Linked DNA regions of Homo sapiens. The protein of the gene in region 1 binds, or shares a complex with, the protein of each later gene. Each region holds a gene or a part of one and is shown on either strand. Other genes may lie near its edges. A codon is read from its position in the direction of its gene.

Region 1 (7,000 bases):
ATTGACAAACTTCTATTTAAGAAATACCGACTACAACCAACAAATGTTTAATATGCAGCAAATGAAAAAATCATGTCTAGGATACTCAACCCAAGACATGAGCACATCATGTACAAATTCATTGTAAACTTACAAAATAAGTTTCAAAATTTCTGCAAGCCCTCACTATACAAACTCAGAATCCTCTTTATTTTTGAGACAGGGTCTGGCTCTGTCACCCAGACTGGAGTACAGTGGCACAATCTCAGCCCACTGCAACCTCCATCTCCTGGGCTCAGGCGATCCTCTCACCTCAGCCTCCCAAGTAGCTGGGACTATGGTATGCCACCAAGCCCGGCTGATTTTCATATTTTTTGTAGAGATGGGGTTTTGCCATGTTGGCCAGGCTGCTCTTCAACTCCTGACCTCAAGGGATCCACCCACCCTGGTCTCCCAAAGTGCTGGGATTACAGGCATGAGCCACTGTGCCAGGCCTGTTCTTAGGGAAAGCTTTTTAGGTTTATTAATGAAAATCCTAATGTTACTAATTGAGACATCAGTTAACACCCAACTTAGTGATTCCCATCCAACCATAATTATGTATTTTTCAAGAAAATACATAATTTACTAACACATTTTCCTTACCATAGCCATTTTCAAAAGAAGGTAGGGTACTAACACTTTCCAGTTTAGATGGCCAAAGCCCGGTCAGTCTCTATAATTAAACAATTATTTTAAACCCTAGTTATGCTAAAACCAAGCTATTCTTATCACAAGTCCCATTCTGCTAACCACAAAATTTAGAGAATTTGTACCTGGAAGATACCACCACGTGTCAATTACAATATACGTATTCCTTGGTCAATTCTGATATCACAGGACCGGAAAAAATAGCTGCTTGGTGTCTAGATTGTTTGGGTATTAAAACCACTGCACATGGATAAGCTATTTGTTCAGTCGGAGAGAAAGGGCATAGAGTGACAGAGCAACAAAAAGACACACAGAGAATGTATTTCTTGTGAAAGAAAAGAATGAAATGAAATGAAATGTAGAAACCCTAATGGCCTTTTGCTTTGGAAAATTAACTCCACAAGCCACTAAAAATACTATCAATTAGATCAGAAAAGACATTCGGTATGTATGTGTTCCTCAAGCATTTTAGAAAGGGGATATGCTATAACTTCCCTGTTGGTTCCAGATTCAACACAGCACAAAGCAAGAAAACTTTTATTTACTACACTCACAAGTATGATTAAGTGTTCCTGTTTACTCTGGTAGGTTAAAATATCAAATATTAGTTCCCACAGAAGAACTTTTTTTTAAACATCTAATCCTATTCGAAGGATAAAAGGGGAAAAACTCATTAAATGTTGAACACTGCCACTTTAAGTACCATTTTTGTCTTCGGGTGAATGTACATAAGACTAAATCATGATCCAACAATAGTTTTCTATTTGGTTTCACTAGTATCACTCAAAGAACTTGACACAGGCTAATGCTTTAACACTTTCTTATCTGAGACAAATTTAACTCTAAGAACATATGACTCAACAATGTACAAAGATTTAAGAATTTGCCAATCTGTCAATCATTTTAAAGAGTCCATATAATATACACATAGCAATATAATATTCATAACCAGAAACTGCACTAAGTAAACACATCATTTAGTTTAAGCTCTACCTGAAAACATGCTGTTTTATTAAAACAAAACCCAAAGACTTAAATCTCAAGTTATATGGTTTTACAATTAAGTCTTACTGAAGCAGCACAGATTTCCTTTCTTACAAACAAGTTAATATGCAGGAAGAACCCACAAAGTGCACACCAACAATGTGACAAATTGTAATATGTGAAATACAAATAAATCCTGAAGTTAATCTGAAGAATGTCAAGGAGTTACCAGAGAGGTTATGTAGTGCCCTTGATTTTTATTTTACCTACAAGTCTACAAATTCTAAAATTTACTCAATTGATTTAACTTTTTTAATAAACAGCACCAGTCTTGCCCATTGATACAATTAAAATTTGACCTTCTCAGTTCTTAGTTCACAAGTTTATTATGAAAAACACTGCAGTGCTCTTGTGCAGTCACATCGTCTTACAGGAAGGGGAAAAAACAGTTCTGTTCAAAACAACTCACCAGGTTCTGACAATAACAAAGAACAACATGGGGCTGAGATTTGAGTAGGGAATAAACTGAGTGCAGACAAATCATATAATTAAATTAAACGGTATCCCTGAAAATAAAAAGAACAATTTCAAAACTCACAAGTAGAAGGGAGGCCTTGGTAATTATTTTTAAAAATGTTCATTAAGCTCCAATGATTGTTTGCTGCTATCCTTATCTACAGTCATGCTGAGTAAAGCTATAGCTAAATGGAAGTTAAATTGTATTCACGAGGTGTTAATGTTTACATCTTATTATCTGCAGTCTCTCAGAGAAAGCAAAAGTAACTACAAATAGCGCTATGCCAGAAACTGGTTTCTTGACCAACAATGTCGCTTCAGCATGCAATGAACTGGTTCATTCTAAAGTGGTCACGGCTGTTGATGACAAGAGGCTTTGTATTTTTATATGGCACATCTTTTGGTCCATGTGAAAACAAGTTTTTTGAATGTTAACTATTTTCTGACACTTTGGAGTTACTGTTGCTCTTCCCATTTCCATTAGGTCGATATATGGTTCATGGCAATACTGTACAAGTTTAAAATTTCATTACAGGAAGTAGTCTGGGGTACGACGAGTAACATGTGGCTCGCCTCTACGAGGTGCTGGGTCAAACTGCAAGCTGAAAAACAAGACCGATTCATGGTTTATGTTCCACGACCTCCATGTAGTGACAATCAAGATCAAGAACATGAGTCTTCCAAACTTTACACTTCCTATTCAATTTTGGCTTGTCTTAATGTAACAGAACCTTAATGATAATGGTCTGTTAACTGTACTCCCCTTGAAAGAGTCAAGGCAACTTCAGCCACAGAGACTATGCTTTTATAAAAACATGGTTTTTACCTTGACTGAAATTTCAAACAAAACAAAACAAAACATGGTTGGCCGGGCGCAGTGGCTCACGCCTGTAATCCCAGCACTTTGGGAGGCTGAGGCGGGCGGATCACGAGGTCAGGAGATCAAGACCATCCTGGCTACCACGGTGAAACCCCATATCTACTAAAAAAATACAAAAAAATTAGCCGGGCGTGGTGGCAGACGCCTGTAATCCCAGCTACTCGGGAGGCTGAGGCAGGAGAATGGTGTGAACCCGGGAGGCAGAGCTTGCAGTCAGCCAAGATCGCACCACTGCACTCCAGCCTGGGTGACAGAGTGAGACTCCGTCTCAAAAAACAAACAAACAACAAAAAAACACAAAACATGGTTTTAAAAGTGAAAAACCTAGTAATTCATACGAAGATCTATATATAATAAGTTCCTGTTGGTGTGTTTCAATGTAGATCCATTAAAAAAAAAACAAAACTTAAAAATAAAAGTTGGAATCTGACATAGCATAATCCCTTAATAAACACTTTTTTGAGACGAAGTCTCGCTCTGTTGCCCAGGCTGGAACGCAGTGGCGCGATCTTGGCTCACTGCAACCTCTGCCTCCCGGATTCATGCCATTCTCCTGCCTCAGCCTCCTGAGTAGCTGGGATTACAGGCAGGCGCCACCATGCTGGGCTAATTTTTGTATTTTTAGTAGAGAAGGGGTTTCACCATGTTGGTCAGGCTTGTCTCGAACTCCTGATCTCAGGTGATCCACCCGAGCCTTCCAAAGTACTGGGATTACAGGCATGAGCCACCGCGCCTGGCCCCCTTAAACTCTTAAACCTCACATTTAAACTATGTATTCAGGCTGGGCACTGTATCTTATACTTGTAACCCCAACACTCTAGGAGGCCAAGGTGAAAGGATCACTTCAGCCTAGGAGTTCGAGACAAGACTGGGCAATATAGTGACACCCTCTCTCTCAAAATAAATAAACCAAAACCCTACATATTCAGTAATGCAAGAAAATGTTCAGGTAGAATTACTTACAAAGAGTATTTTAGAGTATCGTCAAGTTCCATGATTGCAGCTTGGTTACCACAACGATAACAATAGTTTGGAGCACTGAAAATCGTTACTACATTCCGGTCATGGCACCAGTTATATCCCTGCAAGGAAAAGGAGACAAAAATCTTACTTTACTCCCTCAATTCAACTAAATGTTACTTCACTCAAGAGAGAAAAAAATCTCTACTCATTCCCACCCCTGCCAAAGGGGCTTAAGAAATGTTAATGCTTTTTTTCTGGATGACTTAATAATCTCCTGTACTTTATACAACCTGTAAGGTACACATGTATTTATTTTCCCCCTAATTACAAAACTTGTTTTTTTTTTAGTACTTTAAAAAAAAAAAGGCTTTAACAAACAGCAGCAACCACCAAAGAATGAAATACTTCTCATGTATCTGCCTTGCTGTAAATGACAATGTCTCATTAGCCTCTTCTCTTGCAGTGGCCTTAAAACATGATTTAAGAATAAGTATTTAAGTGGCCATTCCCTAGAGAAGTAGATACTTAATCCTGGAGACCAGAACCTTACCAATTTTGTCAGTCACAGGTAAAGGCCTGTTAAGTTGGTCACTGCCCAGGAACAAATGCAATATGCCTCTAGGATCTCCAGCCTCATTTCCTCAAAGTCCATCCACCTGAATGCATGAGCTACTTTTGTTACTTTTTGTTTAGTATTGTTCACAATTTCTTTACCTTTAGCAAAGTCAGATTTTATTGATAACCACAGAGTTGTACTAGTATTAATCTAATTAGGACCTTATTTTAAAAATATTCTAATCAGTGTGCCATGTCAAGAACCTTTGCCTCTTTCCCTTCTTTCAAATCACCTGTAATCCTAGCATCCAAAGGACCACTTAAAACATTTTCGTGTATTTCTTTCCAGTCTCTCCTACATACATACATTAAATATACGAAATAACATTGGGATCATAAAATATCATACATGCACACCAACTCCCTATATCTTACTTTCCCACTCTTAAATCTCAAGTACTTCCTAGTCATTCAGATTTCTCTGAAAACATGTTAATGGATTCATTGTAATCAAAAGCTTGAGCTTTTAATTCTAGTAGTGTGCATCTACTGAAAAGGCTCAGGCTATAATGATAAACTCATCAGAAGGAATAGATGGAATTTCTCACAAATGTCATTAATTTAAAACTCCCTAATATCTTCTTTCCTTAAGTTTACTAAAAAAACAAGTCATATTTCAGAGAACACAGCATACCTCCATCACTAGCTGGTGAGCTCTAGACACCAACGTGAGGCCATTGGCATGATTAAATGTCTCAGAAATATCTTGCCCAAAGGTGTAACCAGCTCCTCGAGGAGATATACCCCAACCACCACGGTCATCTGGATCTGACCACAGCAAGTCACACATTGGACCCTAAAAAATAACTTCAAGTTATAAAATGCCTTTTACAAACATGGTTAACACATTATTTGAGTAATTCATCAGAAGCAGCACCCTAAGCCACCCTTTTTGAGTGATGTTTGTGGACAATGCTAATAGACTGTGCAGTTGAAGTCAAACATCTGCATCAAATAAGATGTATTTTCCAGCAGACTTTATGAGACACAGCTGACATCCATGGGACCCAGCAGCAACATGCCCTAATTAATCTGCCTATATTATGCAAATTTCAGAGTCTAAGACAGACAACCCAGGTCCTAATAAGCCCAGCTTCACAGCTGTTGTGATCTTGGCAGGTTTCTTAATGTCAGCTTCTTTTGAACAACAGGGCAGACAAGAGTGCTCACACCTCAAGTTGTTTTTGAGAATTATATGAGAGAATACATCTAATGAACTTACAATTAAACTTCTCCACTCCCTAATAAGTTTTCTGAAAGAATTTTATCAAATAAAAGTCATACCTCATGGGGAACTTCTTGTAGGCGATCAAGTGCTCTGATATGATCCAGTGTATCTATAGATGGCGAGAGACCACCATGTAGACAGAAGATCTGAAAAGAGTGGTTTAAAAGGTTAACCTCACCTAAAAAATTTGTAAACATTCTTGGCTGGGCACAGTGGCTCATGCCTGTAACCCCAGCACTTTGGGAAGCTGAGGCAGGAGGGCTGCTTGAGGCCAGGAGTTTGAGACCAACCTGAGCAACACAGCAAGACCCTGTGTCTCTACAAAAATTTTAAAAAATGAGCTGGGCACCCCCATCACTTGGCCCCTCTGGTGTTTCTGTGCTCTGCCTGAATGAGACTTGACTTTGCAGGGTTCATCTTTGCTCCAGCCCACTCTGAACTATTGAGTACACTCCTGTTCTTCCTAATAGACCATCGCTGTCACAACCAGACTCCACTTCAAACAGCTCCTTTGAGAAAACTTCTTGGATATCACTCCTGCCCTTTGCCAGAGACTAGTATCTTCATACTCATAAAATTTTATTGTAAGTTCTTTTGTGTGCACATCTACCTAGGCCAATAATTAGCTCCTTACATCTCCCAGACTTGTCCAAAAACAGTCTGAGAGGGTAAATGGGCTACATCACCCACCCCTGTGATCCCACCATACAGTTCAGTGCCTGATATAAAGAATAATGCACTTAAAAAAGTTGGACACATTTGTCAAATTAAATTTTTTTTAAGTTTGAATGAATGCTATCAATATCTATTAAAAAATATCCCCAAAGGGGTGTTAAGAGTGGAAAGAGTCATAAGCACCTGAACACTAAAGAAAGCAGATTCTCTGAAATAATCAGCAATGAGTTTTAGATCCACATACCTGCCCATCCACCAAGGCAGTGAGAGGAAGATAGTCAAAAAGATCTGTAAAATATTTCCAAACATTTGCATTTCCATATTTTCTTAAACATTCATCATAGAAACCATAAACTTGTGTGATCTGTCTGCTCTCATGATTCCCTCGAAGAATGGTGATGCGTTCACGGTAACGAACCTAAAACAATAAAATGCAAAACATAAACAACTAGCTCTTTCAAAAACCAATG
Region 2 (5,415 bases), on another chromosome or scaffold:
GTTTCCTTGCCAACAGGTCCCTTCCTCTCCATCTCCCACCAAACTAGGGCACCATTGATTAGACAAAGGTACAGTGTAACTTGGGTTTCTGACAGCAACAACAGGACTGTGAATTGTTTAACCTCTGTGGTTAAAGCTACAGCTTGAGTTGACTGCCTTGGGGATGTCAGTTAATTAAGGGGTGATGATTTGCAAGAGAAAATTAGTGGAGAGTCACATAGGTAAATCATTATTTAACTTAGGTTTTCCTAAAGTTAGAATAGTCGAATGTTCTTTTCTTTACCTTTACAATTAAGACAAAATGTTTAATAAGAATAGCAAAAATTTTTTTATATTATGCATCCTTATACCTCACATATCTTCCTTAACTAGATAGTTTGACAGAAAGAATGGCATACAAAGAGGAAAGGGGAAAAATGACTCAGAACAAGACAAAAGCTCTGACTGTTTAAAGTTATCGCTTACAGAGACTTTAACAATTTTGTGGAATTTTTACAACTATGAGAGTAAATGGAACTGGTCAACTCTTGACAGTTGCCTCAAGATGGAGTGAAATTGCATCGAGGGTAAGACTGTGTCCACAGGTTTAAAATTCTCTCTTCTGAGTAATAGTGTTCATGTGCTCCCATTCTCGACCCTGTTGTTGAAATTCAAACTTAAATAGCCTGACTTCTTGTTGGGTAACTTGCCCTGCCTCCAGAGGTATTTGAACTTCATTATCTTCAACACAGGAATTGTTAATCTTCTCACTTCACCTGTTCTTGCATTAGCTCAATTGATGTCATCACTGATTTCCTAAACTAGAAACTATGGAAGCATCTTTGACTTTTCCTTTTCTCTGTTGGATTAGCTTAATCACCAAGTCCTGTCAACTTCTGAAATGAATCTCAAATTTCTTCCCTTCTCTATCTGTTGCCCCTGATTTTGCCTTAAGTTCTTGCCTGAGTGATCTCCCAGCCTGTCTTCTGTCTCCTTTTGGTTCAGTCTTTATACTGCCTCTTGAGTAATCTTTCTGAAATTTAAACTTGATATTTTTCGCCCTCTTGCTTGAAAACTTCACTTGCTTCCCCATTTCCTACTCTTTAAGGAATGATTTCTTTAGCCTCAGATAGAAGGACCTTTATGATCTGGCCATATTCTGAAATAGCTTCAATCCTCTCCTCATCTCTGTTCCAGTATACATCTTTCCTTCTTATTCTGCAAACATTAGACCACTTGATATTCTTTAAATATGTCATGTACTTTTCTTGTGTCTGTTCTTTGGGATAATTCCTATCCTTTTCAGGGAGGCAAATTGCACGTGAGTTTAAGTATGAAGGCAATGTATACCTGCTGATTGTAAAATATTTAAACATTGTACATATCTGTGTGGTTTTAAAAGTCTGCTTTTAATTATGTAAAATTCATCTTCCCTTTCCACAGATAACTTCTGTTAACAACTTGATATCTATTGTACAAGATGTGTTACTGGCATTTCCATGTATATATGTATATAAATGCAGGAAACCAACATGTCATTGACACCTCTCTTCTTTACTTTTCCCCATATCTAATCATTCCTCAAGTCTTACTGATTTTTATCAGCTAGAATCTATCTCCTTATTTCTACCTCTATTGCCACTCTGATCCAGGCTACCAGCATTTCCCTCTTAGGCTTCTGAAGCAACTTCCTAACTCCCACTTGTGCTCCTCACACTCACTCTGGTCGGCTATCCATTCATTCTCCATACAGCAACTAGAGTCATTCTTTTAAAATTGCGGACCTGATCCTTCCATCTCCCAGCTGAACGCTTTTCATTTGCTTCCTGTTCTCATGAGTATGCCAAAATGTATTAATTCTGGGCTAGGAGGCCCTGAGGAATTTGGTCCTTCCCTCCTCCCCCCTCGTTTTCTGTGCTTCGCCCTCACTGGCTTGCCTTTCTTTTCCTTAAATACATCATGTTCTCTCCTATTTTAGATCCTTTTCCCCGAAGGTATGGAAACATTATTTCTGTAAGCTTATTCTTCTATATAGATGGGAAGTTTTTAAATCAGATAAGGTTCTAAGGGCATGTGGACAATTTACGTTATCATAGTATTGTTCATAACGTCCATCATTATTCTGTAGACTGTAAGGGCTTACTTAGCTCGTGTAAGAATTATCCTTCAAAAAGCATTTTTAAGGTATTAGTATTGCTAATCTATAAACTTTGTGCAAGAAGTCCTAAAGTCAATAGCAACATTTATTTAAAGTACAGTTTGTCATACTTAATAAACCTCTGGTATATTTTCCTTTATTATGCTTGTTAAAAACACAGTATAAATGGGAGAAATCATTAAAGATCATTAACTCCAAGGCTGCTGGATGTTAGGACCCTTAAGCATACTTAAAAGATTGATTGTAATCAAGAATAACTTGTATCAGATTGCCTTCCAGTGATTCACATTTATTAGTTCAACCAGTTACATACCTGTAGCAAGAGACCAGTTTATTTGGCAATAAAATTGGGGAAGGAATCAAGACTTAAATGAGGAAAGTGAGTCTGAGAACATTTTTTTTCAGGGTGTGTTTATAGATTAGTAGAACAATTTTGAAGATCTAACAGAGGTGGGAGTCAGGGGAATGGTTGCCAGACAATTGAACCAAGAAGATGATGATCATTTCTTGAGTAGCACCAGAGAACAGAAGAAAGAGTTGGCCTTGGAAAGGAGGTCTGGAAACTTATTTTTCTTCTGAAACAGGAGGGAGAGTGAAAAGGCTAGGCAAAGATATCCATAAATGTTGAATTGATTTGTTGTTGCAGGGGTTTAGGAGTATGGAGGTAGGTATATGAAAAGTAGAATTTGTTTCTGATTGTGCCTATTTTCCAATTATTGAGGAATCTAAGATACATGAGGATAGGGACAGGAGATCATTTGGAAGCTTGAGTGCAGTAAAGGTTTAATGTTGCCTCTGAGAATCTAAAGGAGTAAGTTAAGGACAAGTAGAAGGCTTATTAGGCTATGATGGATGCCAGGTTGCAGTTGGATGGCAGGCACAAGGAAGTGGGTTGGATTGACTAGGTTTGGGAATTGGTTAAGTGGGTACTAGGTAAAGCCCAGTGTGTGAAGTAGTTAAGGGTTCTGCTGAAAGTGTAGTTTGAATGATTGGCTGAGGCATTGAGGATAAGAGAAGGGAGCAGAGGCTTATGGACTAGACCACTTTTTTCAGGGCTTTACCTTATCAGCCATGACAAAGTATAGAGAATCTGGTCTCAATGTAGGTCTCTCACTCCAGCAGTTTTGCCCACATTTTTCATGGCTGTTAGAGAATCAGGGCTGAAGGCAAGCCTTGAGTGCCACTTACTTGGTAAAAAATTGTGTCAGATTGCTCACTGTAGCCAAGACAGAGTTCTTTGTGGCTTCTGTAACTTGCCATCCAAGTAAAAAAATTTTCTTAAAAGTTGAAATGACCTTTGTATAAAAAGTAATAAAATACTTGCTATGTGTCAGGGACTGTTCTAAGTGCTAAGCAAATATATCAATGCATTTAATCTATCACTATCATCTGAGGCAAGTGCTATCATTATCCTCATTTTATAAATGAGGAAATGGAGACACAGGTTGAGTTACTTGCCCAGGATTCCAGAGCTGGGAGGTAGGCAGCGAATTGTGGTGGTTAGGAATATAGACAGTGGAGCAGGGTGGCTGTGGTGAGGATTGAATGGGTTCGTACACAATGTGCTTACAAAGATGCTGGGCAATTAGCATCCTTGATGGATGAAACTCCTGCTTTCACACTCAGTTAACAGTACAATATCCTTCAAAGCAGGCTATCCTTTTATGAAGCGATTGTTTCTGATGTTAGCCTTTCTTATAGTGAACAGACATTTCCCTCTAACTTCCACCATTCAATTCAAGTCCACCTTTGGCAAATGCAAAACAAGCCTTATTCTTCTTTTTATAGGTGATAGCCCCCTTCTAGAAATCAGAAATACTGATCCTTCTCTAATGACTACTTCTTCCTTCCAGATTTTAGAAATCTTGAGCTGTGTCTTCAGTATGCTGTCTGTGAAATAAGGCTATCATTGCGTGGCAGCCAAGATTTTCACCAGATTGTGATTCCCTTATGACCATTTGCCTTCCTGGGTAGGAAGTGATAAATGGCCTGATAACGTGAGTTTTTGCCAGTAATAATAATAATGATGTGTTAATATTTCTTGAGCATTCACTATGGGTCCAGACACTATTTTTAGTGCTTTACATTTATGAGTGTTTAAAATCCTCATGACAACCCTGTGAGGCAGGTGCTATGGATTCCCATTGAAGAGATGAGAAAACCAAGGCCATTTTCTCAAGTCCCTATTACTGTCTATTTTTTTTCCTTTTGAATTTAGGCCCTTTTGGTTTTTTTATTATTATTATTATAAACTTTTTTTTATTATTAACTTGAAGACCATTTCCCAGCTAACTTTAGCAACTTGCTTTATTTTACTAGTGCTGCTACTTCTGTTTTGAATCAAATGATAGGTAATCATTCCTTAAAACAGTATTATATTAAAGGAACATACCAGGAAGTTTTTTTTTTAGTAATAGGCAAGAAATTAAAGTGTATAGAAGGAAATCATGGTTCCACAGCTTTATGTATTTTTTCCCTATAGCATTAATTTTATTCAAAGATTTAGGGGAAATTTTTTGTTTTAGAACGAAAAGGGACTGGTAGCTAACTGTTGTAAATACATGGTAGAGTAGAGTACAAAACAAAAGTCTATGAGGAAATGACCACTTACCAAGCAGCTTCACGGAGCAACCATACCCTCCACGGTAACCATTCTCTTAAGGCGATTGATGGAAGAGTTTCCAACCGGAAGGTTGGGATTCAGTACCACCCCCGCATGGACAAATGCAGATGTGAGATCACTCACAGCCATGTCTACCTTCATGGAAAATGAGTCGGCCCTCTCCAATACCATGACACGCAACCTCTGGCTGCACTGCGGTTATGGGATTGGCTTCTCTCCTACTTTTGCGGTTATGGGATTGAAACTCTCCTACTTTTTAGAAAATCCTGTGGAAGGATCAGGTAATAGGAAAAAGGCTGGTGAATTCTGTAAAGGGAAGTGAGTAGAATTGAGTTGGGTTAGGGAAGGAAGCATTTTAGGCAGCCACCATGGAAAGAAGGCAGGCCACCTTCTCACTGACGATGAGACCCAAGTGCTAAAGGCCAGCAACAGGCAGTGTCTGAAAACTAGTCTGATATCATCACAGTCTTCGAGGGAAAATATGATTCTACTAGGGTTTTCATGTCAATAGTGGACTCGAATTTAAGAAGTCTCCAGTCCTTTTGTAGAAGTACAAGTGTTTTTTATATATGAGCAGAAGGACCAGAAAGAAACCAACTCTTCTTCCCATCCCTCCTTAATACAGAATTTATTTACTTTTCTTGCCAATCTTTCA
Region 3 (7,337 bases), on another chromosome or scaffold:
TTTAGTGTTCATAGGGAGGCCTAGAATAAATCCCCCATCCATACCGAGGGATCACTGTGTAAAGAAGGTGGATAAAGGTTATAAATGGTAATTAAGAAGTGCAATTAACTGGAAAACATAGTTGTATGAGTTTAAAAACATTTTTTATTTTCCCTTCAAGATTTTGGGGATTTTAGTATTATAAGAAAACTTGGGGCTTATCACATCCCACCTTCTAAATGTAAACACACTTATACTTTGTCCCCCTGTCTCTTCTATGCTACACATGAAGATTTTAGATAAAGTTGGTTTTGTTTCTGGTTTTCTTTTCTTTTTGTACTTTTGGAGTGGCTAGAGCATAGGCCAGTTTGCAGGATCAAGATAAGGCTATAACTTTTCATGTAATTTTGAGTATTTAACCTATTATGCTCTTTATGGTAACATTCTGTCAGCTAAAACCTCATTAGGAATTTATATCCCCGGTATCTGTACTTCACTTCTGCCACCTTTTAGAGAGTTGTGTAGTATTATGGTGGCTATTTATATTAGCTTCTAAGTAGCAAGGAAGTAGGAATAAAATGTCCAGTGTCTTGGGATATTCTTAAAACCGTCAGCAGTTACGTATACAGATGCAATTTTAGTCTGTCCATATTTGTTACTGAAAATCTTTAAAAGTTGTTACTTGAACTTTAACTGCTTGCTATACTCTGTATTATAGATGTCTATCCTTGATTTGCTAGCTCTCAAATTGTAATAGAATACCATGGTTTTTAAATGCTGCTGACCAATTTTCATTTCTTCTTCCATTTTGTGGGAGATTATATTCATACTTTGTTCACATTCCTTTCAATATTCAGCTTACAAAGAGCATGAGAAGAAGCTATTGAAGTATTTGCTTGGGGAGCCCAAATTTCACTAGAGTGTTTGCAGCCCTTGAATATATTTTGAATATATTAGTTTTTTGTTTTTTTGTTTGTTTTTTCCTTTTTCTTTTCGGTTGTGGAAGGAACAACCTCTTTCCCATTGTTTAGCCCTAGAGTGTTTTAGGGACAAACTATAATACTGTACTAGGATAATAATTTGCTAATCTTTCAACATATTTTATATTGTCGTAGTATTGATTTTTCTATTTTCATTTCACTTTGAAAAATCTTCCCAAAATTTTCTCTCCTTTCTTAAAAAAATTATACTGATATATACTATTCATTAAAAAGTAATTGAGAGTACTATTTATTTTTTCATACAGGTTTAAAAAACGAATGCTAATAGAACAACTGGAGAACTTCTTGGATGAAATTCATCGAAGAGCCAATCAGATCAACCATATTAATAGCAATTAAAAGAAAATAGAATGTGGCCACTTATTTCACTATCTTCTTCAAATACAAAGTAAATACAAGACTGTTGTGATCTTGCATTCATTTTCTGACATGCATTGTTGGCTATTTGAAATACTAAAAGCAAATCTACAGATCCTTTTTCCATCATTTTACAGTGACCTTTTCTTCATTTTGGTTTATTTTTGTAATGTGAAAAGTATCACTCTAAAAAACATTTTTAATTTAACAAACTAAAAATATTCCTCCAAATCTCTTGCTTGTCATTGACTCTTGCGTGTCAATTTCCCTCAGGTTCTATTTTCTTAAACCAACCTTTAAAATTGTCACCTCTGTTAAGGTTGAACTTTGCCAAAAAAAAAAGAAGTTACTTTGTAATTTTTGGGGAAAAAAGCACATACATTAAAACTAGGTAATGTTTTGTATATACAGTTATTTTGGATATATTATTGTAAGTTGTACAAATGTATTTTGAAGAATATTTAAGAAAAGCACTTTTGTTATTCCATCAATAAATGCTCTATTTTACTCTTGTGTGGTTTAGGAAATAATCACATTTAAAGTAATCATTTAAAAACATCCTAAGATAATGGAATTTTAAAGGCCTTGCTTTTTAGCATTGGAAAAATACACCACTTGAAGTTCATGTTTGTTAAGCCTAACTGTAATTACATGTTACATAATCTGCATTGCCTTTTTACTATATGTTCGTAGTTTTTGTTGGCCATGCCAACATACTCCCATTTCTGCCTAGATTATGGGAATGACTTTGTATGGGGCAGATAGACAGATACTTTAAAAGCTATTTAAAAAGCAAACAACTTTGGATATTATTGGTTTCCTTACTTCAACACCTTTTCCTTTATCACTAGGATTGTGGATGGCACGAAGCTGAAGCTGTTAGGGAGTGGTAGGTTTGGAGTACAGTACATGCTCTGAAATATCTAGCCTTTAGCAGCTTCATGCCATGCTTGCAAAAGCCCACAACAAATTGGAGGCCTCCTTGTTCTGCTCTGCTGTTCTCACACTTAAACTCTGTTTTATTTATAAGCTAAATGGAAAGGAAACACCTTTAAGATGACTTTGCTCATTTTGCATCCCCCCTGAGTTTCACAGGATAAGGAAAACCACGCTATTCATTCTCCACCCTCAATTCAACATGGCCTAGAGTATCCGTACTGAGGAAGCAATCTTATGGCCTGACTCACTCACCATTCATGATCACTGCTGTGCCTTTTAGTGGTTTGGGGGGTAAGCAGTAGAAAAGAAGGTCAAAATAGATTTGGATTAAGAGTAGGCAAAATAAACTTATAACATTTAAAAACTGAAGTATTTTTAGGTTTATAATATTGAAAATCACATACCCTTAGCTTTTTACACTTTATCAGACATTTTTTTAAATTTCAAGGGTATAGCAAAATGAAATTATAACTTTATGAAGAAAAGCATTGATGAAAGTGGAGAACATGCATTTAGTCTAGGGGATTTGAAACTCTCCCAATACTGAAGACAAACCCTGTCAAGAAAAAGAAGAATTTAATATTATATAGTATTTTCATATGCAGTTCTTTAAGCTTTGTTTACTTCTATACAAATACTTTTAAGTAATGCAAGATAACATTTAATAGATGGAATTGTTAAGGTAATTGCCTGTAGTCACATTGCTAAATTCATTGAGAGTTACACAAAATCCAGAATATATTGTCTGTTCCTAAATTATATATATTTAGATTCTGGAATTACTAGGAGGAATTAGAAGTCATTCAGATAAAAATTCATACTTAACAAGAGTATCTAGGAAAGAGATTCAGCCCATCCCAATATTGAGCAGCTTTCCTTATCAGAAAGTTTTATTTTCTGTTTCACAGATTGCTCATGACCTTTAATACATTTTTCTGAATGAACCCTGGAGGGAGGTGAGAAGTAGCAGTTTTGTTCATCTCTTCTTTTTGTCCTTTATCTCTCTGCCACTGTTCTCACCTCATCCTAAAACCTGGTCAGGAGGGTTTGAAACCTATCAGAACTAAAGGTTAATATCTCATCTCCCTCAGGCTTTTTTCATTTAAAAAAAAAATGGGTATATTAGTTAAATTAGAATACTTGTTGTAGAATTATTGTCAAAGGGGAAGGGAAATACATCTAGGGGAAACATCATGTCTTTTAGGCCCTTTATGTCACTGAATGACTTAAGGCTCGACAAATGATATTCTTGGAAAGTTTAATCTTGAGGTTTTCAAATCTTTTTTTTTAATGTCTCCCATGTTTCTCATTTGCTGATTGATTCATTAGTTGCTCTTAGTAAGATTTGTCAGTTGGAAATAATGAAGGCTGAGACTCATTTCTAAACTCTTCCATAACCATCACCAGAAGAGCAGCCACTGTGTTGTGTGATGTAGGCTAATGCCTCCCAGATAGAGGTAAAGTCACAAGGACTATTAGAATTCCAGTGGATTGTGGAACTGGTTTTGGATTATCCTTATATTTTCATTCTGATTACTGAGGCAGTTCTGAAAACTCCTACCATTGAAATAGTGGTGTGTCTTTTCCTTGTTTAAGGATTTTACATCATTTTTATGCACTTGAATTCCAAAATCAGAATCTCTCTTTTACCTATCAACCTTTATTGGCTATTGGCTTTTGGCAATGACCTTTCTGTTCAAATGTAGTCCTGTCTCTTTGTTTCCTTAGGGAGTAGAACCTGTCCTTTTTCTCATCTTTCATTTTTTTGACGTGTCCTTTCTAAGAGAAGGCTCTCTGCCGCCTGTTCTGGGTGATAAGTGATATTTTCATCTAATCGTTATGTGGTTGGGATGATCATGGTGAAATACTAGGAAGACATACTCTGTTGATGGACTTTTTCTCTCCAAATAATCCCAAATAGATTATTTTCTAGTGAATGGTTTATATCTTTCTCGTCACAAAAATGTTCCTTTGATTTCTAGCACAAGGTACAGCAGGATGCAAATGATTCTCAGATAAAATGATGTTGACAGTATTTCCTTAACAATTTATGTAAAACTATGCATAATTTTCATTCTAACTTTTGACATTTTTCTCCATAAATAAAAGTAATGCCTGATGTTTAGTTAAAGTAGATCCACCTTTGCTTGATTTTATTAGTCTTGTTCTATCCTATTTCTTTTTAATACACTGTTTAGACTTGCCAACAACTCTTAACTGAGAATCTCTTTTCCTTCCTAGGCTAAGTAATTGTGAGTGGGGGAGGAAGAACATTAAGAGAAATAATCTAAAGACTTTGTTCAATATTGTCGAAGCCTAAGAATATTTGTGTGTCCTTCTGATGTACTGAGGCTTTGCCGGTACCACACCATCTTTGGATTACCATAAGGTTATGTAGTAGGACTTAAAAGTACTAGGGCAAACATTTGATTTTTGAGAAAGATCAACAGAACAGTATAGAAATCCAGGTGCATTCATTAGAATACTAGGATCACAAGAGGACTACTCTGGTGTACTCTAGTGACCTGAAAAAACTCTAAAATGATAAGAAAGCTAGGGGACAAAGGGAAAAAAGGGCAAGATTTATAATTTATTTTACTTTCATGATTTTTCCAAGTGTCTTCAGAAGTAGAAACCTATAGCATTAAAAAAAAAAATCTACATTAACTATATATGAGCTGAGAGAATGAGAAGGTAAAAAACATGGAGGATAAGTTTCCTTTGTACTTACGAAATAGTCCCCTTTCTTAGGATAGAAGATAGCAACTGGGTAGCTTCTGAAGCACCATAAAAACAGCTAGAAAGAATGCTTATTTTTGAGGGGATAGTGGACAAATGAGCCCTTGTTGCTAGAGAGACACTGATAAATTATCTGAATCCTGTCAAAAAATACTGTAATACCTGTGTTAGGTTCTCTCAGGAAATAGATGAATGGCCGATCTGCTTTAAAAATAGGAATCCGAGACCTTTTCAATAACAACAGAGCTGCAGGAAAGAAAGAAAAATTCCATTGCATTTTCTGTGCATTTTTAAGAAAATAACTATTGGTTATGAAGTAAGTTAATTTTTTAAGAAATCAAAGCATCCTAATGGCATTTGATTGTTTACTGTTGTGATGGGGGTGCAGATGGGAAAATTAAAGAGAAAAGATGCCATTTAGCCAATCCTGTCTCCTGTTTTCAACACATTCCATGGAATAAATTCCTTATTGAAGGTAACTTTCAGAATTATTTTTATGGGATGGATATCTCTTCTTCCCCGTCATTTTTCAAAAACTTTTTGTTTTCTTTAGTGTTCCTTTTTAAAAAATACTACACCACACCTGAACTTGGGGGTTATGGAAAGATTCAGAAGTGTGAAGATTCAACTAGGTAAATTTCAGAAAGGTAGATATGGGTAAGCAGTGTGACTGGGTATTCTCTGAACATACCTGTGGCTCCAGATGCCTTGGTGCCTTCCTCCAAAACTTCAATCTTGGCCTTGTGGATTGCTTCAGAAACATAAAAGCCATCTTGGCCTAACCACAGAAAATGATAAAAATGTGAGTTGCTCATTAACATTTTTCTAACACATTTAGAACACATTCTTTAAAAATGTACTTACAAAATTTATAGTATCCAATGCTGCTTACTGTGTAGCTAGGGAAAGAGTGGAAAATTCTGTTTTTGTTTTTACTGGAGGCTCAGGTAGCTGTTTGGAAAATTCTTAAGACTCAATATGTTACCAAACTTTAATTTGTTATATATATTTAATTTGTTAAAATATGTAATCGCTCCCAAAATAATATTCAGAGCACTGCCCCATTTTTTCAGTGGTTCATTTTCAGAAATGATTCTAGTTAAAACTACAATCCCTCCTTCAGCCAGTATTTCCTAAACTTCAGTGATCATAGGGTATGTGTTAAAATGCAGATTCTGTAGCCCGGGAATCATTTTCACCAAGCTTCAGAGATCATTTCCCTTGAATGCCTTTTTGGACTGCACTTTAAGAGCCACTTTTAAATGACAAAGTCACAGGTTTTTATTACAGGCTTTATTGAGGCACAATTCAGAGTAATATGAATGTGTCTAGTGTTGCATGACTGTATTCTGTATACTTAGGTGTATCAGTTATGCAATTAATTTGCCTCATGGGCTAGAATCTACAAAGCAAATGAGAGGTTAGTATAAATGTTCTATGTGCTAACAGTTTCACAGATTATAAGTTTAGCAAATAGGACTAAGTGATAATTTAGAGGAATTGGCTGATTTTTGTAAGCTAATCATTAACCATTTTTAAACAGCTCCAAAGATGAAAGGATACTTGATGACACAGTAAAAAATGAAAGATTTAGAACCAGAAGAAACTTAGGAAATCATTCAGTCCAATCCTTTCATTTTAGAGTGAGCTGTGAACTCACCTGAGATCACACATTTGAAAAGCAGAGTTGAGAATATTCTGATTGAAAGCCCACTCCCATCCCACCCCTCTCCTCCATTCAAACACTGCCGCCTTTCAGAAAGTGTATGCTAGTCAGCTCCAACATGCCACTGGGAGGTATCTGTGGCATGAATGTTAAAATGATCAGTTTGATGAACACATATTGTGTGAGGGAGCTTTGTTTCATCTTAGACTAACGCTTAAATTGGTTTGTGTTTGTCACGCACACACAGGAGATAGCCCATGAATGCCATGAGAGAATAAAACCAGACCAAAATAAAGAATATGCGGCATTCCATCCATCTTGTAAGATGTGCACAGGATGTTGGGAGTTGGCTATATTCACTGTAAGGAACAGTTATTTTCCAGCATCAGTGAAGGGGACAGGAAGGGCCAGAGGAAGTAAAAATCAATAGAAACATTCACTAGTGTCACTTGTCCTAAAATCAGCAAAGAATTTGATTTATTTTAGCAGTTGGTCTTTTTCTCTAGGGTCTTTAAGAAACAAATTTCACTATCAATAATTAGCCCCTCTTACTAGCTAATTAAGCAAACTGAAATGCAGTGCCAAAGTTACAAAGAGCTTTAGGGTTAAAGAATGGTTATTTGACAGTCATGAGAGGCTTTTACTAATCTCCGAGA
Region 4 (9,875 bases), on another chromosome or scaffold:
TCTCACTATGTTGCCCAGGCTGGTCTTAAACTCCTGATCTCAAGTGATCCCTCCACTTTGGCCTACCAAAGCGCTATGATTACAGGAATGAGCTACCATGACCAGCTTTGACTTAGTCTTTTGACTAATTCATGTTTATATAAGAAAGCTGAGATTTTATAAGTTAATCTGACCTGAGACAGAGTGAAGCTGGCTGGTCCCTTTGGAAGACAGAATTAACTATTAGTTATCTGCCCTATTAGTTAATTAACCAAAACATTATTAATATTATCCTCTTCTCATAACCATTAATGGAGAGAACTCCATGTGACACAGTAACTAGAGGGTAAGACTGGACCCACAGATGTTTTATATGCTATACAGATTACTTTAATACTGAGCATTTCAGTGACCAGCAATGTATTTACAGTCCAGGGCTAGGATGGAAATTGCTAGAAACAGGCTCACTCTGCATCCCAGCATATACTTAGGTATCAATGAATGTGAAACATCTTACCCAGTACCTGACACCCTGTAGGCACAGAATACATGCCAGTTTCCTTCTACAGAGCCCAACTGGAGCAGCCACTATGTTCTTGCAACTCCTGCAATACTAGAATGGCTCAAATAGGAAATTTCTTCCTCCAGTCTCTTGAACAATGACTGCTCGTGGTGAAGGAAGGGCTTCTCACCTTGGGTATCACCTCTTGGTAATAATTCTCCTTTTTTTAAAAAAACAAACCAACAAACAAAACAAACAATGCTTTATAGTTTTCTCTTTTCTCTTTCTTTCTTTCTTTCTTTCTTTTTTTTTTTTTTTTTTTTGGAGACAGAGTCTTCCTCTGTCACCCAGGTTGGAGTGCAATGGTGCAGTCTCGGCTCACTGCAGCCTCTGCCTCCCAGGTTCAAGCGATTTTCCTGCCTCAGCCCCCTGAGTAGCTGGGATTACAGGCGCATGCCACCATGGCTGAAAATGTTACAGGAAAGGGTCTCAATCCAGACCCCAAGAGAGGGCTCTTAGATCTCTCACAAGAAAGAATTCAGAGCAAGTCCATAGGGTAAAGTGAAAGTAAGTTTATTATGAAAGTGAAGGTATAAAAGAATGGCTGCTCCACAGGCAGAGCAGCTCCGAGGGCTGCTGGTTGCCCATTTTTATGCTTATTTCTTGATTATATGCTAAACAACGGGTGGATTATTCATGCCTCCCCCTTTTAGACCATCTGGGATAACATTCTGGTGTTGCCATGGCATTTGTAAACTGTCATGGTGCTGGTGGGAGTGTAAAAGTGAGGAGGACAAGAGGTCACTCTCATCACCATATTGATTTTGGTGGGTTTGGGCTGGCTTCTTTACTGCAAACTGTTTTGTCAGCAGGTTCTTTATGACCTGTATCTTGTGCTGACCTCGTATCTCATCCTGTGACTAAGAATGCTCTAATATCCTGGGAATGCAGCCCAGTAGGTCTCAGCCTCATTTTACCCAGCCCCTGTTCAAGATGGAGTTGCTGTGGTTCACACATCTCTGACAAAAATACAGGTGGGATTATTCTCATTTTACAGATGGGGAAGGAAAAAAAAAAGAGAAGTGCATGAAGACACTTCTACAGCTTCTACTCTCTACTGGATTGTGCTTTTCGCAAAGTTTCCTAGCAAGTTAGAGTAGTGAGCTCTCCAGCTGTGCTTCTGCTCCTTCACATTTGGGATTCTTTTTCCTTCTAGATCTGTATATTCTGTCTTATGCATGCCCCATTCCATTAGTTAGCCATTTTTCTTTTTCAAAAATTTTTTTAATTTGATTTTTTTTTTTTTTTTTAGAGATAGGGTCTCGCTCTGTTGCCCAGGCTGGTCTCAAATTCCTGGGCTCAAACGATCCTCCCACCTCAACTTCCCAAAGTGCTGAGATTACAGGCATGAGCCACGGTGCCTGGCCCCTCAAAGTTAGCCATTTTCTTATTGGCTATTTTTCAAATTAGGTTGATCCCAACTTTACACTATTGAAAACACCATTGCCTGAATATTATCATACACCTATCTTTATCTAAATCTGATTATTTCCTTAGAATCTATTACTAGAAGTGGAATTATGGAACCAAAACCCTCCCTGTTCTAAATTTAGCTGAAAAATGTTTTTCCCCGGGTGATACAGCTTATGATAGGCACAGGAAGATAGGTAGGAGGAAATAGCAGTGTGGTGGTTTTGGATTAATTTATTAATTTACAACAAAGACTTTTTAAGCACCTACTAGGTTGGACCTCAGGGGAAATCACTGGAGAGTTGTATCACAGGGACTTTCTGGACTTGAGCCTGGGGTGTAAAGCAGGCAATATGTAAAGCTGGAGAGACAAAGATGGATAAAATGCCTTTAAGGATTTCACAGTATAACAACAGATAATAGTAAGAGTTATTATTACGCAACACTTCTAAGATGTCTGATGAGTATCTCAAACTTGATGTGTCCAAAACTGAAGTCTTGATCTTTCCTCTAAACCTGTTTTTCTTACTCTCGAGCTTACTTATTTATGAAAGTGATACAGCCATCCACTCAGTTGCCCAAACCTAGATCAAGGGGGTCATTGTTTATTTCCCCTACCCAGCTGATAAGATTCCAGCAAATCCTGTCCCCCTACCTACACAATATAGAAATATCAACCCAATGCTCCACTCTGGTACAAGCACCATCATCTCCATCTACATGGTCCCCTAACATGTCTTGCCTTATCCACTCTTGCAACTCTCCAATCCCTTCTCCAAAAGCAGCCAGATTGAACTTGTAAACATCACACCATAACATCTCCCTGGTTAACACCCTCGAATGGTTTTCCATTTCACTTAGAATAAAATTCAAACTCCTTCCCACTACCTTCAAGGCCCTGCATTCTTCTGGTCCCTGCATTATCATTATATGGCTCTATCAATTACTATCCCTCCCTTGGCTCACTCAATTCCAGACACTAACATCAGGGCTTTTGCATTTAGCTGTTTCATCTGTCTGTGTGCCCTTCCTGGAACTTTGCAGGGCTTCTCCTCACTTCTTTCAGAACTCATCTAAAATCACACCCTCAGGCCTGCCTTCCTTGGGCAGCATGCTTATATTATAGCCACATTCTCCGCCTCCACCAACCCCTGCCCCCCGCCCCACTGCCACCTTTTAACCTCTCAATTTTTGTTACTTCTGACAAAGATTCTCTTCTTTGGCCAAAACTCTAGTCAGGCTCCTGTGAGTCCTCTGCCTACTAGGACTAACCGTTTGGGCTTCCTTTCTGTCCTTGTTGAATCCAGTTTGTGCAGGGACTCTCCACTCTTGGCGTCTTAATCCATTTTTTGTTGCTATAACAGAATACAAAACACTGGGTAATTCATAAAGGAAAGAAAGTTATTTTTTGCAGTTCTGGAGTCTGGGGAGCCCAAAGTCGAGGGGTTGCATTTGGTGAGGGCTTTCTTAAACTGCATGGTAGAGAGCCTCTCACGGTGAGAAAGCAAGAGCATGTGTGCCAGCTCAGATCACTCTTCCTCTTCTTATAAAGCCACCAGTCCCATCACAGGGGCCCTACCCTGACGATTTTATCTAATCCTAATCACCCCCTCAAGGCTCCACCTCCAAATACCATCAACATATGAACTTTAGGATTGAGTTTCCAACGTATGGAATTTGGGGGACACAGTCAAACCATAGCACTCGGTATCTGACCACCCTCAACATCTTAGCACCCTGTCCTGCTTTCAGCAATAATCCTGTTAGGTCAGTTTAGCAAGAAACTTCTTATCCTTGATGTTTCTCTTAGTAGTTTTCCGTCCACTGACCCTCATCCTGCTCTTTGGTTATAAATCCCCACTATATCTTGTTGGAGTCAGAGTTGAGTCTAATTCCTCTTCTTCACTGCAAGATCTGGTTGTAGTGGTCCCTGTAACTATCACCATGGGCTCTCTTACATAAAGTCTGCCTTACCATCTTTAATTAGTGCCATGAACAAATTTTCCTTTAACACTTTTCAGCATTTATTTCTCTATATTTGTCTATTGTTTGTCTGACCCACCAAGCACTGTTATGTACCGTGACTGCAGACACTTGTTCCTCATTTTATCCCACTGCTTGGTGCACAGGAGACATTTATTAAATGTTTGTTGAATGAATGAATGACAAGCACTTGTCACAACGGTAACTCTGTGAAGACTAGGATCCTATCCATTTTGTTCATTACAAAATTCCGCCTAAGCCTTGAACAAGGCTATGAGTTATAAGTGCAAAGCGATTTAGAGGAAGGAGGGGTAACTAAACTGACTGAAGAAGCTAAGGGAAGCCTCACAGATAAAATTACATCTAAACTGAAACTGAAAGGAAGGTGGAAAACTAAAAAGATCAACAAGGGAAGGACTGCAGACAGAATATCGCGAGGTATTGGTCAGCCAAGATGGCTTCTAACACTGGCCGCCACACTTAATATGGCGGCCAGGGAAATTTCCTGGAGAAAATCACGCGAGAGTTGCATCACGGCGGCTGTGCGCGAGTTAAGCTGGGGGTGTGGAGCAGCCAAGATGGAGCCGGCAGTCGGCGGTCCGGGCCCACTGATCGTGAACAACAAACAGCCCCAGCCCCCGCCACCTCCGCCGCCGGCAGCCGCACAGCCACCACCCGGGGCACCGCGGGCCGCCGCGGGCCTCCTGCCTGGGGGCAAAGCCCGCGAGTTCAACCGCAACCAGCGCAAAGACTCAGAGGTCAGGAGCTTCGGGGGGCGAGGCTCGCACCGGGTCGGGCGGCGCCGGGGGTCCCGGGCCCGGGGCCACTCTAGGGGCCAGGTTGGGCTTCCCGGAGGGCTCGGTAGAGTCCGGCCGAGAACTGTCACTATACAGCGAAAGGAGCAGGAAGCGAGGCTGGCAGCTCCTGGGGTCTGGAGCATGAGTCCTTGCTCTAGCTCCGCCGCCCGGGAGAGCTTCCCGTGGCCGGCGACTGCTGGTTTGCTCCCCTGGGCCCCGACTGTGGGCGTGGCCTCGAGGCCCTAGCCCCTGGGGAAGCCGCTCTCGCCCCAGCTCGGGGGTGAGGAGTCGGGGGTCTTGGTGCACTCCAGGGCGCTGGGCTGCCGCGCCCCCAACCTAATCATCTCGGGCGTCTGTCCCTGGCACGCGGGCTCCAGCTCCTGGGTCCTGCCGCTCGCAGAGGAAGGCGCGTGTGGGCAGGGAAGGCGCCGGCGAGGATCTGGAAGGAACTTAGAGCCGGACCGAGCTAATTATCATTGAGAGTAGAGTAGGAGGGGGAAACATGTCCTGTTCTTCTGACCTGAGCCAGATCAGGCCATGGGTTAACAGTACCTGTGGTGGGCTATTGTGCCCAGTGCGCCTGATACTGAACTGTTAAAGATGAGAAATAGACATTTTAAGCATGCGTTAGGACCCAACATTCCTTCCTGTCTCGCTAGTGAGCCGTTCCTGCCGTTCTGGAGATGGCATAGTCTGGAACTGACTAGTAACCTCACCCCAAGTTAAGGAATTCCTCCCACTGCCTCCTTTTGCAGAATTCATGAATGAAGATACTCATGTCGCGGAGTTTTAGGGCTTCTTAATGAGCAGGTTCCCAGAGCACTTACTATGCCATCTCCTAGATTGATCAGCAGCCAAACTGATCAGCCAAGTTAATGAGAGGGAATTCCTAGTTGTCCAAGCATAATGTACCAATTCATACCAAAGAGCAATGATACTACCTTTAGACCTGTGGAATCAGTTCCTCAGAAGCTTTTATTTTTTGTTAGCAAGGCTAAACCCCTGAGAAAACATGTCAACAATTGGCAAGCCCGAAGTAGACGTAATTTGAGCTTGGAGTGAATTATTTGAAAAAAACAAAAACACTGACCATTTAGGAGCCCTGGCATGGTGGGATGACGGACATCAGTGTTAACTACTCAGTTTTTCAAGTGGAAGATTACGAAAGTGCAGGGGGGTGAACCTACCTTCATCATGAGAGGAGTTATCATTTTGAAAAATGGTTTAAAATTTTCCAGAGTAGCTACGAATGGTCAAATAGATACCCTCTGACGAATTGTAATTTCTCTTTGTACCCTTTAATTTCCACATAGAGGCCGGGTGCAGTGGCTCACGCCTGTAATCCCAGCACTTGGGGAGGCCGAGGCGGGCGGATCACCTGAGGTCAGGAGTTCCTGTCCAGCCTGGCCAATGTGATCAAACCCTGTCTCTACTAAAAATACAAAAATTAGCCGGGCGTGGTGGCTGGTGCCTGTAATCCCAGCTACTCAGGAGCCTGAGACAGGAGAATTGCTTGAACCTGGGAGGTGGAGATTTGCAGTGAGCCGAGATTGCACCATTGCACTCCAGCCTGGGTGACAAGAGCGAAACTCTCCCCGTCTCAAAAAAAAAAATTTCCTCATAGACTCATTACATGAAAGACCAGTCAAATGGACACATTTAAGCAGAGACCTGTCTAAATCCATTTCTTTATAGAGAGTCTGATGCCATGATCTTTCTTTAGTCATAGCTGAAATCGGTAGTTTGGGAGCCTGATCAGTGAATGCCTGGAGGACAGGGAGGCTCACATTTGATGAGAGCCCACTATGTACTACATAATTTTGATTAGTCCTTAAAAATCTTCAAAGTAGATTTTCATCATTGCCATTCAATGAATGAAGAAACCGAAGCTCAGTAACTTGTGAAAGTGTACACTGTGTTATCTCTGAACACAACGTGGAGTTCTTGTTTGTGGGTATGTTTTTTGTTTTGTTTTGTTTTGTTTTGAGACAGAGTCTCTGTCTGTCTCCCAAGCTGGAGTGTAGTGGCGCGATCTTGGCTCACTGCAACCTCCACTTCCGGGGCTCAAGCGATTCTCCTGCCTTAGCCTCCCGAGTAGCTGGGACTACAGGCACGCCCCACCATGTAAAAATATATTTTTAAAAAATTTTATATTTTTATTAGAGACGGGGTTTTACCATGTTGGCCAGGCTGGTTTCAAAGTCCTGACCTCAAATGACCCGCCCACCTCGGCCTCCCAAAGTGCTGGGATTATAGGCATGAGCCACCTCGCCTGGCCATTGTGGGTATGTTGTGTCATTTTGTGGCTGGTCTTTGTCTTCCCAGGTAGACTGTAATTAAACCTAAGGACTTTACCTATTTGTTTCTCACTTCTCTCTTCCCAGTACAAGGCTTCCAAGATGGTGTGTTCTCAGTAATCACCTATTTCCAGCAGGAAAAAGATTGTCTTTGTCACATTTTCTCTTATGTGTGGGAGGGAAGTTGATCTGTTTGGCGGCTGCCTTCTTTGTCAGTTCTCACTGAAATTTGAGACAAAGGTGGGAAAGCTGAGGGTTTCAATACTCATTTTTGTCCTGAGCTGTTGACAGTCCACTAGCCAGAAAGAAGTTAAGACTTCTGGAATCATAGCATCATATGGAATGGTCATTTACTGCACAAAATACATAGAAACCTTGTATTTATTCATTTAACAAATATGTGTGTATAGACCATTCATTCATTCACTTATTCATGCCAGGTACCATGCTGGACCTTGTGAAATCATTGGTAAGTTAAATGGATGATGTTCTTGTTCTCAGGGAACTTACAGTCTTGTGGAAAGGCAGACAGTAAACACATCCTATAATGATAAGTTATGATAAATGCTCTGAAGGAAAAGTATAGGATACTCTGAGAGGTTTTAGGAAACAAAATGTGAAAAAACATAAAAAAGTGGAGGCAGTGGTGTCCTGTAACACAACAGCATCTCGAAGCATGAGTTTCTTTGATAAATAGAATGATCCTTTTTCCTAAAGCTCTCTCCTCTTGTCAGCAGGGCTATTCGGAGTCACCAGACCTGGAGTTTGAGTATGCTGACACAGACAAGTGGGCTGCAGAGCTCTCGGGTAACGCACAGACCTTTGTGTTATTTGGGGGTGGTTTTTTCCTTATTGGTCTTTAATAAAATTAATAATGAATATCATTTAGGGCTTCATTGCTTTCCCTAGTTCTATCAAATATATATATATATATATATATATATATATATATATATATATGTATAAAACATGTTATTTGATTCAAGCCTTGTGTATCTTATAACTTTGTGTTGTCCTTTACTTTTATGAAGCTGGCTAGAGCCCAGTCCCATTGTGAGACAGTGATGTTCCTTGGCTATCCACTGTGACCCTGACAGTGGTCTCTCCTCCAGCAATGGGTCATGAGGGATGCCTGCATCTGTGCCCATCTGCTGCTGCCACTGCCACTCTCATGTAATGCGAGGTCGGTGTGAGCTGCTTCTCCAGCCTCTACAATACACATCCTGCTCAAGAGGTAGCAGCCATTTGAGAGATGCATCCCAGGTGGCCGTCAGCCCTGGCATGGCATGGTGGGATGGATGCACATCGGACTGGAAGTGTCCAGATGGCATTCTGGCACTCTGGTTGTCTCTATTGTGCACATCAGAGCACTAAGATCCCCTTCATAATTAGAGAGCTTATTCCAGGAGTCACTATGACTCAGGGGCAGAGTTGAGAGTGGAAGCAAATGCCTTGCCTTCTCTGCACTTGTGAGACCTGGTGTGCAATGCAGACATGGAACCAATGGTGACGAGACTTTGTTCTGACAGAGCTTTACAGCTACACGGAAGGGCCAGAATTCCTGATGAATCGAAAATGCTTTGAGGAGGACTTCCGGATCCATGGTGAGATGATTTCCCACACTTCTTGCTTCCTTTGCCCTGCATAACGAGAGCTGCAGGTTTCTTTTAGGCATCTGAATGACCTGAGTCATCCTGGAACAGCCTGAGAAGCCTGCTGAACCCTGATGGTTCAAAGCCAGATACATGTAGAGTGGGCTTGTGGCACATCGGTGGGGGCTTTTCAGAATGTGCATATTAGGGGAGAAAAAAAAATCATGTGATTAAAATTGCACCCAAAATACCAGCGTTTCAGTTTGGAATCAAATTCATAGAGCAGCAGTATGATCTTACCACTTACATAGGGTGTAACTTATCTTTCTGGTCCTATGGCAGTCCTGAATTTGGTGAGTTAACATGGGTCCATGCCATTGTGAGGATTTTTCTAGGCTCAGGTGTAACTGGTTTCTTGCCCTGCAGTGACAGACAAGAAGTGGACTGAGCTGGATACCAACCAGCACCGGACCCATGCCATGAGGCTCCTGGATGGCTTGGAAGTCACTGCCAGGGAGAAGAGACTCAAGGTGGCTCGAGCAATTCTCTATGTTGCTCAAGGTATTGAGTGGACCTCCCCAGGGTTCCCTGGCACCTCTGCCCACTCAGATGCAGGGAGGGGCTCAGTGAGTTGAACCCTGCATTGCAGGCACGTTTGGGGAGTGCAGCTCGGAGGCAGAGGTGCAGTCCTGGATGCGCTACAACATCTTTCTCCTCCTGGAGGTGGGCACGTTCAATGCTTTGGTGGAGCTTCTGAACATGGAAATAGAGTGAGCATTTTTGAGAGGCTGAGTAGGGAAGGGGAGGCTGGGATGGGAAGGGGGACAGAGCTTGCAGAACTAACTGGCTTTGAGAGGGTTAAATGGGGCAGAAGTTCTGGTCCCAGGCTGTGTTCTGACCACCTGGGTTGAATAACGGAGTTGGTCACTTACACCTTGAAGATTAATGGAGACTAATGACAGGTCCCTGCAGCTCCCTGATGCCAGAGTTTTTACACCAGACAGTGCAGGCCCTGCCCAGGCCTGGGGTGCTCCTCAGAAGGAGACTCTTCACTTTGAGCTCTCTTTTGAACCTGCAGACACTGCTGTGTTCGCCCTGCAGTTTCCGCCTTGGCAGGAGGCCAGGCACAAGACTGACATATGGGCTCAACCAGTGCCTGGCCTTGCCTGTGTCACCTTTGTCCAGTGGACAGGTCAGCTGCTGCTCATCTAAGGATAACACCATCAATGATAAAGCTAAGACAGCTCATTGAGTG

Evidence for each region.
Region 2: the proteins of PPP2CA (region 1) and PABIR1 are in contact, whole or in part, in a cryo-EM structure (PDB 8SO0), measured with the Homo sapiens proteins. Residues at the interface, in NP_002706.1 of Homo sapiens: Arg89, Gln122 (codon at 6,897), Val126 (codon at 6,885), Tyr127 (codon at 6,882), His191 (codon at 5,917), Trp200 (codon at 5,402), Pro213 (codon at 5,363), Arg214 (codon at 5,360), Gly215 (codon at 5,357), Ala216 (codon at 5,354), Leu243 (codon at 5,273), Met245 (codon at 5,267), Tyr265 (codon at 4,077), Cys266 (codon at 4,074), Arg268 (codon at 4,068), Cys269 (codon at 4,065); in NP_612206.5 of Homo sapiens: Asp95, Leu96, Ile97, Arg99, Glu100, Thr101, His103, Glu104, Arg105, Val107, Gln108, Met111.
Region 3: the proteins of PPP2CA (region 1) and INTS6 are in contact, whole or in part, in a cryo-EM structure (PDB 8RC4), measured with the Homo sapiens proteins. Residues at the interface, in NP_002706.1 of Homo sapiens: Arg89, His118 (codon at 6,909), Val126 (codon at 6,885), Tyr127 (codon at 6,882), Pro172 (codon at 5,974), Trp200 (codon at 5,402), Pro203 (codon at 5,393), Asp204 (codon at 5,390), Asp205 (codon at 5,387), Arg206 (codon at 5,384), Gly207 (codon at 5,381), Gly208 (codon at 5,378), Trp209 (codon at 5,375), Ile211 (codon at 5,369), Pro213 (codon at 5,363), Arg214 (codon at 5,360), Gly215 (codon at 5,357), Tyr218 (codon at 5,348), His241 (codon at 5,279), Gln242 (codon at 5,276), Leu243 (codon at 5,273), Val244 (codon at 5,270), Met245 (codon at 5,267), Glu246 (codon at 5,264), Tyr248 (codon at 4,128), Asn249 (codon at 4,125), Trp250 (codon at 4,122), Cys251 (codon at 4,119), His252 (codon at 4,116), Arg254 (codon at 4,110); in NP_036273.1 of Homo sapiens: Leu20, Gly21, Thr22, Asp26, Lys29, Gly30, Glu33, Lys78, Asn79, Gln81, Asp575, Glu576, Asp577, His580, Ser581, Val582, Pro583, Ile584, Ala585, Met587, Gly588, Asn589, Tyr590, Tyr593, Leu594, Met626, Met627, Ile628, Asp629, Glu630.
Region 4: the proteins of PPP2CA (region 1) and STRIP1 are in contact, whole or in part, in a cryo-EM structure (PDB 7K36), measured with the Homo sapiens proteins. Residues at the interface, in NP_002706.1 of Homo sapiens: Thr40, Glu42, Ser43, Asn44, Ser171 (codon at 5,977), Pro172 (codon at 5,974), Ser173 (codon at 5,971), Ile174 (codon at 5,968), Asp175 (codon at 5,965), Thr176 (codon at 5,962), Asp178 (codon at 5,956), His179 (codon at 5,953), Arg181 (codon at 5,947), Ala182 (codon at 5,944), Leu183 (codon at 5,941), Asp184 (codon at 5,938), Arg185 (codon at 5,935), Leu186 (codon at 5,932), Gln187 (codon at 5,929), Glu192 (codon at 5,914), Gly193 (codon at 5,423), Pro194 (codon at 5,420), Gly208 (codon at 5,378), Trp209 (codon at 5,375), Gly210 (codon at 5,372), Ile211 (codon at 5,369), Tyr218 (codon at 5,348), Ile224 (codon at 5,330), Thr227 (codon at 5,321), Phe228 (codon at 5,318); in NP_149079.2 of Homo sapiens: Gly421, Leu422, Pro426, Phe436, Lys443, Phe444, Pro460, Arg461, Pro462, Ile463, Glu465, Ser466, Thr469, Leu470, His473, Arg726, Lys730, Met733, Ser737, Tyr740, Gln741, His745, Arg746, Leu747, Asn748, Asp749, Trp751, Ala752, Tyr753.

What each region holds. Positions count from the first base shown.
Region 1 is NC_000005.10:134,195,074-134,202,073, forward strand, and holds part of PPP2CA (serine/threonine-protein phosphatase 2A catalytic subunit alpha isoform), read right to left. Parts: intron 6,949-7,000; coding exon 6,775-6,948; intron 6,002-6,774; coding exon 5,912-6,001; intron 5,435-5,911; exon of another isoform or gene 5,424-5,434; coding exon 5,262-5,423; intron 4,132-5,261; coding exon 4,013-4,131; intron 2,772-4,012; coding exon 2,699-2,771; 3' UTR 1-2,698. UniProt on the Homo sapiens protein: Catalytic subunit of protein phosphatase 2A (PP2A), a serine/threonine phosphatase involved in the regulation of a wide variety of enzymes, signal transduction pathways, and cellular events.
Region 2 is NC_000009.12:68,782,093-68,787,507, forward strand, and holds the end of PABIR1 (PPP2R1A-PPP2R2A-interacting phosphatase regulator 1), read left to right. Parts: 3' UTR 1-3,474; downstream 3,475-5,415. UniProt on the Homo sapiens protein: Acts as an inhibitor of serine/threonine-protein phosphatase 2A (PP2A) activity. Inhibits PP2A activity by blocking the substrate binding site on PPP2R2A and the active site of PPP2CA.
Region 3 is NC_000013.11:51,359,734-51,367,070, reverse strand, and holds the end of INTS6 (integrator complex subunit 6), read left to right. Parts: intron 1-1,225; coding exon 1,226-1,319; 3' UTR 1,320-2,788; coding exon of another isoform or gene 2,789-2,832; 3' UTR 2,833-5,073; coding exon of another isoform or gene 5,074-5,261; 3' UTR 5,262-5,494; downstream 5,495-7,337. Other genes in the region: SERPINE3 (serpin E3 isoform 2 precursor), read right to left, coding at 5,074-5,261, 5,707-5,793. UniProt on the Homo sapiens protein: Component of the integrator complex, a multiprotein complex that terminates RNA polymerase II (Pol II) transcription in the promoter-proximal region of genes.
Region 4 is NC_000001.11:110,030,126-110,040,000, forward strand, and holds the start of STRIP1 (striatin-interacting protein 1), read left to right. Parts: upstream 1-4,498; 5' UTR 4,499-4,512; coding exon 4,513-4,692; intron 4,693-5,283; exon of another isoform or gene 5,284-5,314; intron 5,315-7,765; coding exon 7,766-7,835; intron 7,836-8,557; coding exon 8,558-8,632; intron 8,633-9,046; coding exon 9,047-9,181; intron 9,182-9,269; coding exon 9,270-9,390; intron 9,391-9,698; exon of another isoform or gene 9,699-9,812; intron 9,813-9,875. UniProt on the Homo sapiens protein: Plays a role in the regulation of cell morphology and cytoskeletal organization. Required in the cortical actin filament dynamics and cell shape. Part of the striatin-interacting phosphatase and kinase (STRIPAK) complexes.